2 linked regions of the Homo sapiens genome follow. The protein of the gene in region 2 interacts with the protein of the main gene of each other region in a biochemical or structural test. Each region holds a gene or a part of one and is shown on either strand. Other genes may lie near its edges. The genes, in order: POLA2 and HELB.

Region 1 (3,912 bases), on a different chromosome or scaffold from region 2:
GAATGAGGTGACTTGGCAGAATGACAATCAGCTCCTAAACTTGGAGACAAACCTGATCTAGCTGTTTACTGCTTTCTCATGTGAAAAACTTTTTTTTAACCTCTTGAGATTGAACTAACTCTTGTTTGGCAAGAGGGGGACTGGTCTAGGCAGATTCCTTGTAAGGGACCTAACTCCAAGGCAGGCAGGGCTAAAGGGTGGCAGAGATCAAAATGACCCAATAGCTTCTTCAAGGTATTCCCAGCTGAGCCCACTTGGAGGTCATATCAGAATTTGGGAGGCAGAGGACAGGCAAGTGTACATATGAAATCTTCCCCAGGTCACCTCTATGTGGCCTGGTGAAAGCCCTCATTTGAGGGCCTTCCTAGTCATCTGGGCTCTCGTTCTCTTGGGGAGGGAGGAGAGGACACTGTTTACTCAAGCATTTTACTGACAGAGTTGTTTGTTTTCTGGTCCCACCACCTCCCCAAAGAAACAAGGCCACAGGGCAGGGTGCTAGAGGCCCCATCCCCATCAGCTGACCCATGAGGGGTGAGTGCCGGGTGGTCTAGAAGGGAAAGTCAAAGACTGGGTTCTGGTGTTTCTGGGAAAAAGCAGAGTTCAAACCTACCTTCACGAAGTACCTCAGCTCTGACGGGATGATGAGGACATCTGGGGTGACAGGCAGCTGTGCGTAAACATAGAACGACTCATAGTCAATGGCCATGTCTTCTTGGGGCGGGTAGAGTGGGTAGTAGCTACAGAGACAGAGAGAAATTGTCAGCACTAGCTGACCGGGGGGCCCCCTTCTCAGACAGAGTCCCCCTAGGTACTGGCTTTCGTGCTGCTGGCATCCACAGACCGACTTTTTCTCTGTGTGTGTGGGGCAGAATGCAGGCTTGTCATCACAGGGTAAAGTTCCCTGCTGGTAGCCTGGTGAAGGCTCTTACAGTCATGCTTGTCATAGCTCCATGACCCCAAGGCACTCTCTCCACAGTCAGGGGTCCCAGCGGCAAGCTCACCTCCTCTGGGTCAAGATGTGCTTGAGTATTCGGCTGAATCTGTCTGAAGTTCCGGAAGAACTGGGAAAGAAAAGAAAGCATGAAAACAGAACTCTGTTTTTCAGCCCATTTCTCTTCAGGGAGGACTGGAGAATTTAATAAACCAGAGAGAAGGTAAATGGCCAAGGCACAGCAACAAGAGGAGGATGCCTCTGGGGAAGTTTAAAGACCCACCCACAAGGAGCTCAGTCTGTCCCCACATGAGGAGGGACGCAGGACACCAGGTTGAGAAGGGAAAGCACAGGAATCCCTCATAATCAAGATCAAGGAAGGCCATTAGCCAGCACCGTACTGTGCAAGAGGATGCAAAGTTGGCACCATCATGAGGCGGGTGTGTAGCCAGGCTGACCTGAATCTCAAACCTCAGCCAAGGAGCCGCACCCGTCTCGCTTCACACGCGAGTCGCTTCACATGCCCCTTCCCATCAAGGATGACGGCAGAACGGAGCTGCCCAACTTCAACTCAACAAATTTGTCAGGGCCTGATTCTCTGCAGAGCTGGATGTTGTACTGGTAGTGAAGAAAATCCTTCAGAGAAAATTCCCAGTTTATCCTCCACAAACAGGATGTCCACATTTGTTTTCAGGTCACAAATTTGGGAAATGAAAAAAAAGGGGAGCAGAAAAGAAAATGTAGATGAATTTTGATGCCTTTAAGTGCAAAGACAGAATGGACGTGGTTCTTTGGGGTCTCAAACGCAGTTTAGAGAGGTGGTAACAGAAACTAATGCATCCAACCCCTCCCCTTGGGTACAGAGAAACTCAGATGGCTAGAGGGTCTGGCACAGCTTGCTGCTTTCAGCTCTCTCTGGTCAAGACCGTTAAGCAGCCCCTTGATTTTCTTGGCTGCAGAAAGGGCTGGGACCAGAAAGCCAGTCATCCTGCTTGGGGCCTGGAACACACTTCTTACCTACTGATCTCCTCGGCCCCCAGGTGGAAAAGCAGATCTGTGGATGTCAAGCCGAAGATCACTCCGTTTATGGAGAGGCTGCAGGGCTCGGACACAAACTGTACTTGCTAAAATGAGAACGGATTGAAACAAACATTTGTATGCCAAAGCTAGAAACATCTTCCCATGAAAGTGGGGGTTGTCTGAGGGCTGGGGAGACCACGGAAAGGGGGACCAAACCAACATACATCAAGCTTTTGGACACATTTGCCTGTTTAAAAAAAGGAGTTTAAGATTCAGGCTGTACGCACACCCTAAAGAGGCCTCTCCACCCTCCCCTTCAGGGCCAGAGCTAGTGGCAGAGGCATGCTGGATTCTGGCTGCCTGCTGGTCAAGGAGTGGGTGCTGCTACCTTTTTGTCCTCTCGAGACAGATCGGAGTAGCTGAAAGGCGGCTGGGGGTACACAGGCTCATGGTGCACATCTCTCAATGACGGGACAAAGACAAGGTGGGAGCCGGAGCTAGTATGGCAAAAGAACAAACAGAAGAGTGAGAAAAGTGAGTGCAGTTGAGTTAGAACAGCTGCGCAACAGGTGGGATGCCTCAGGCTGGAGGCAGAGCCCACCCCGAGGGAGGCAGCTCAGAACTGCACTCTGTTATGAACAGAGACGCTGTTTCCCATGGGACACTGGGAGTAAAGGACAGTTTGTTCTACTTCACACCCATCCATCTGGACAGGCTCCGATTGCCTGGGACACTTTCTTGTTGCTCTGTGTGGCTTTCTACTGAGAGGATGGAGACTATTTTTTGGCAGAAAAAGGGGCAAAGAAATGGAGATCTAGAAAGTCTAGAAAGACAAGGATGTGAATAAAGAATCACAGCCTCAGAGCCAGAGTTTAAACCACAGCTTGGACTCATTACACCTTCTAAGCAGGTGTAGCCTGCAGGCAGTAAACAGTGTCCCTGCCACACCTTGGTAGGGTGCATGGAGCTGGGGCATTTTTCCTAGGGAGAAGGCAGGCATACTAAAAAGACCCTGAGACTGCTTTTTTTTTTTTTTTTTTTGAGACAGAGCCTCACTCTGTCGCCCAGGCCGGAGTGCAGTGGCATGATGTGGGCTCACTGCAACCTCATCTCCTGGGTTCAAGTGATACTTGTGTCTCAGCCTCCCGAGTAGCTACAACTACAGGTGCACACCACCACACCCACCTAATTTTTGTATTTTTAGTACAGATAGGGTTTCACCATGTTGGCCAAGCTGGTCTCAAACTCCTGGCCTCAAGTGATCCACCGACCTTGGCCTCCCAAAGTGTTGGGATTACATGTGTGAGCCACCACACCTGGCCTGGCTTCGTATTTAGAAGATCCAGCTGAAACCCTCTGACTGACTGAACACTGGGCCATAATTACTGGACAACCGAGACACAGACATTTCCAGTGGGAGGCAGAAAAGCCCAAGCGGCCTCTCCCTGAGCCATCGCATCCCTCCCCTCTCACACATGGAAATAATGCCCTGAGTTTCTATTTCTCAGCAGGTTGTCATGCAAAAATGAAAGAAATATTTAACAGCAACAGTAAAAGCACAGATGACAGCAGATGTTTCCTTTGATGGAGCAGGAGAATCTCTAGGGTTACAACATACAAGTGAAGAAGAAAGTTGTAACTCTGGGGGCCAACTATTTATTTTTCCCAGCCACACAAAAGAGGAAGAAAGCCCCGTTTCCTTGGTTCCCTTAAGATGACCTTGGCAGAGGGGCCGTTTATAAATCAAATAGGCATAAGGTATTACTTTGCGGGCATGTTTAAAATCCACCAATAGCTCTCACTTCCATCTCTGTCTCTTGCTTAAAACATGTGGACTTCTCAGGCATACATACACTTTCACATGTGATAAAGGTGCTGGTGACAGCTGTCACCCTTATCACTGTTTGTGGTGTCCTCTCAGAGTGTGAACTGAGATGTCTATAACAGAAAATCAGAATCCT
Region 2 (3,912 bases):
TCAAGACCAGCTTGAGCAACACAATGAGACCTTGTCCCCCCACCCCCCAAAAAAAAAGAGAGAAAGAAAAAAAAGTTTAACATCTAGAGATCTAGAGTTGATTCTTGTGCCCAAGTCATCATGTTGGTAACAAGAATATCCCATGTATATACTCATAAGTGACCCAGATTTGGGAAGCCAATGATAAGTTGCAGTTTAGATATGCTGAGTCTTAAGTAGCCAAGGGGCATCCAGTAGTGACTGACAGTGTTTAGGCAGTTGTTTGTATGGTTTGGAGATCAGATTAGGCTGAGTCATTAGCATGTAGGTGAAGGATGATTGAGGAAAGGATTATAGAGCAAGAAGATGCTTGGGATGGAGCCTTGGGGAATAACAGTACTTACAGGCAAGCAGAGGGGTCCAAGACTGTAAATAGCCAGAAAGGAGAAAAATCTGAGAAGGCAAGCTGCAAAAGCCCCGGCAGCAGAATGCTACAAGAAGAAAATACTTATCAGTATCAAATACTGCTGAGAGGTCAGGTAAAACAAAGGCTGAAAAGTATCCACTGGTTTTTGAAACGAAGAGGACAGTAAGTGTGACATTTGTCAGAGGAGATTCAATGTTGTGGTGGAAACAGTAGCCATGTGAATGTCAAAGGAATTCAACCTCATATAGCCAATCCTTGGAAACACTGGTGTTTTGTCAGCTGCAACAGTATTTCTTTTAAAAGCAACAAAAGTGGGCATTTTTCAATTGGTACCCAAAGGAAAAGAAATCAATTTTTATATTTTCTCCTATACATTTTTCTTAAATATTTGGTGCTAGTTGTCGTTTATATATATTTAAATATAGCATCAGGTGCTTTTGGATTTAGTAAATAGTGTGTGTTTAGTTATTTCAGGAATAATCCCAAAATAAACAGTATCAATACAGTAATGTAGTAATATATTTATGGTATTTCTTAAATAGTACCAAGACTTTCAAGTACCATCCTCATCAAGTAAGAGAATCATAGCCCCATAATAGTTTTTAAAACCACGTTCCTTTCTCTTCTATTTCCCTTCTCCTATTCCTGTCTATACTCTGGGCTGCAAAGAGACACTTTTGCCCCACTGTCAGCAGGTAGCAGCCCAGCTTAAATAAGTTTGGGAGACCAGGGTGTACTCACAGAGGAAAGGATAAAAATAACTTTGAATGTTATCTAATCCAGTGGTGTCCAAACCTAGCTGAGCATCAAAATGGACAGCCCGGAATGTACATTAAAAAGACAGAATTCTAGGTCCCTGCCCTAGATCCGATTCCAGAAGGGCATCTGCTATACTTTCGTTTTGGGAAGGTTGGGGTGGGGGTTGCTTTTCCAGGTTCTTCAAGCTCAGCAGAAGTGGACTTTCTCCCCGTTCTCTCTCCGCAGGAGATGCCGTGCACTGGCGGTTCTGCAGGTGCCACGCCTGTCACTCCCCAGCGCTGATTTCGTCCCAGCACCTTCCTGATAATCACCGCCCAGCACCAGGCTCCAAAAGGAGCGGAAGCCCCGCCCATCTCCCAGCCCCTCGCTCTCCCTTCCCCGCCCCTAACCCGCCTTGCCCCGCCCCTTCCACATGCCCTCCCCTCGGCAATTCCTGGAAACTTGGGGCGGAGCTTCGCTGCCTTTCAGGTTTTATGTACGCTGGCGGCCGCCAGGCCGTTCCCGGAAGTTGATGGCCTTACAGTCGTAGAACTGATTGGCTGATCATGACCATGCAGTTAGCCAGGGTTTTCCCGAGTTGTTTGGGTTGAGTTCAGGAGAAGCATGGCCAGGTCGAGTCCGTACCTGCGCCAACTTCAGGGACCTCTGCTCCCACCCAGGGATCTGGTGGAGGAGGACGACGACTACCTAAACGACGACGTGGAGGAGGATGAAGAGTCCGTGTTCATCGACGCCGAGGAGCTCTGCAGTGGGGGCGTAAAGGCTGGCAGCCTCCCCGGGTGCCTCCGCGGTGAGGAAGGCGTCTGCCCGGGGGATGGGGTTGGAGGGTCCAAAGTAGCGCTTCCCATTCTGGCTTTGCCCTGAGCAAGGCACCCAGTCGTGCTAACAGATTTAGCTTATCAGTGGTCTAGCTGCTTCATCCTACCAAGGGTAAAATTATGACTATAATAATAGCAGTGACTTTAACTGGACACATACTATGTGGTTTTTTTTTTTTTTTCTTTTTTTGAGCAGCAGCAAGATTTATTGCAAAGAGCGAAAGAACAAAGCTTCTACAGTGTGGAAGGGGACCCGAGCGGGTTGCCCTTTTTTTTTTTTTTTTTTTTTAAAATTATTCTCATTTTAATGGTCGTCCTTTAATTTAATGTACCTTTAATGTAAGGTAGTTTTACGCTTAAGGAAACAGTGGATGTTGAGTCTCTATTTCCACCCAGAATCGGAACTTTTATTTTTCCTTCTGACCACTTATCCTCAAGTTCTATAGAATGAGAACTTGTAATTATTATCCTATATTGCCTGGAGTCAAATACGTGGTTCTTCCTCAGCTTCTTGGAAAAACAAAACAGTCCGGGCGCGGTGGCTCACGCACTTTGGGAGGCCGAGGCAGGTGGATCACTTGAGGTCAGGAGTTCGAGACCAGCCTGACCAACATGGTGAAACCTGTCTCTAGTAAAACAACAACAACAACAACAAAACTACAAAATTAGCCGGGCGTGATGTCGCACACCTGTAATCCTAGCTACTTGGGAGGCCGAGGCAGGAGAATTGCTTGAACCCAGGAGGTGGGGGTTGCAGTGAGCTGAGATCACACCATTGCACTCCGGCCTGGGCAACAAGAATGAAACTCCATCTCAAAAAACGAAAAGGAAAGAAAAGAAAAAGAAAAACGAAACACAAGGAACACCTCAGTGCACAGATGATTGTTAATTGGTGTTAGTAACCTTGTGGTTCGGGTAAACCTTGTATAAGTAGTTTCCTGTGCTATGAGGTAGTTTCCTGTGCTATAAGTTATACCTGTTATGTATACTTTGTGACTGAGACTTAAAATATTTTAATGTGCCGACCGGTGCTGTTCAGTAGAACTTTCCATGATCATGGCAGTGTTTTATATCTGCACTGTCTGGTATAATAGCCACTAGCCATATGTAGCTGTTTAGAACTTGAAATCCAGCTAGTGTAACTGAGGAGAGAAATTTTAAGTTTTATTACATTTTAATTTAAATAGCCACGTGGGTGGACAGCGCAGATTTAGGCAGAAAAGTTTCAAGTATTTGTGGAGGGCTTAGTCGTCATTCTAAAGTATCATCAACTGGCTAGCATGTTTGGTGCTGGGAAAACCTAGAGAAATAAAATAACAAGGTTGCAGTCTTAATGAAGCTTACCCTCTAGTGTATTAAACAAACATTCTTTAATCACAGAAGTAACTATAATGTTACTAAATGCTTAGAAGGAATGCTAAATAGTGCTTTGAGAGGTTTTATACATGAGATTCAGGGAAGACTTTTCTAAGTAAGTGATAGTTAAGCTGAGGTCTGTAGTAAATGTAGTAAACAGTAAAGGGGAGATCAGTTAAGGCAGATGGAATAACTTGAGTGAAGGGCCATGGCATTTTAAAGAAACTGCATGAAGGCCAGTATTGGCTGAAGTCAAGAGTAGCAGAGAGGGGACTGATTTTAGAAGAGGAACAGCAGACACCTGCTGTGTACTGTGCTTGCGTTTTGGAATACAAAGACAAACGAAACAGTGTCCTGTTTTAGTATTTACAGTGTAGTGGAGGGAGACAGAAAAAGAGGTAGGCAGAATGCAGTGTTACAGGCACCCTACCAGACATCTTTAGAGAGTGCTGTAGGGAGATTAAAGATAGTGGTAAGTTTGATGAAACTTTGAGGAAACGGTTTCTAAATAATCTCCAGAGTTAACTTTTGTGGGTTTTTGTTTGTTTTTTTTTAGTTTCTATTTGTGATGAA

The links.
Region 1: the proteins of HELB (region 2) and POLA2 form a complex in vitro, tested with the Homo sapiens proteins (one study listed by BioGRID).

What each region holds. Positions count from the first base shown.
Region 1 is NC_000011.10:65,292,689-65,296,600, reverse strand, and holds part of POLA2 (DNA polymerase alpha subunit B), read right to left. Parts: intron 2,829-3,912; exon of another isoform or gene 2,449-2,828; coding exon 2,340-2,448; exon of another isoform or gene 2,056-2,339; coding exon 1,949-2,055; exon of another isoform or gene 1,062-1,948; coding exon 1,002-1,061; exon of another isoform or gene 977-1,001; intron 738-976; coding exon 611-737; intron 1-610. UniProt on the Homo sapiens protein: Accessory subunit of the DNA polymerase alpha complex (also known as the alpha DNA polymerase-primase complex) which plays an essential role in the initiation of DNA synthesis.
Region 2 is NC_000012.12:66,300,836-66,304,747, forward strand, and holds the start of HELB (DNA helicase B), read left to right. Parts: upstream 1-1,657; 5' UTR 1,658-1,768; coding exon 1,769-1,955; intron 1,956-3,895; coding exon 3,896-3,912.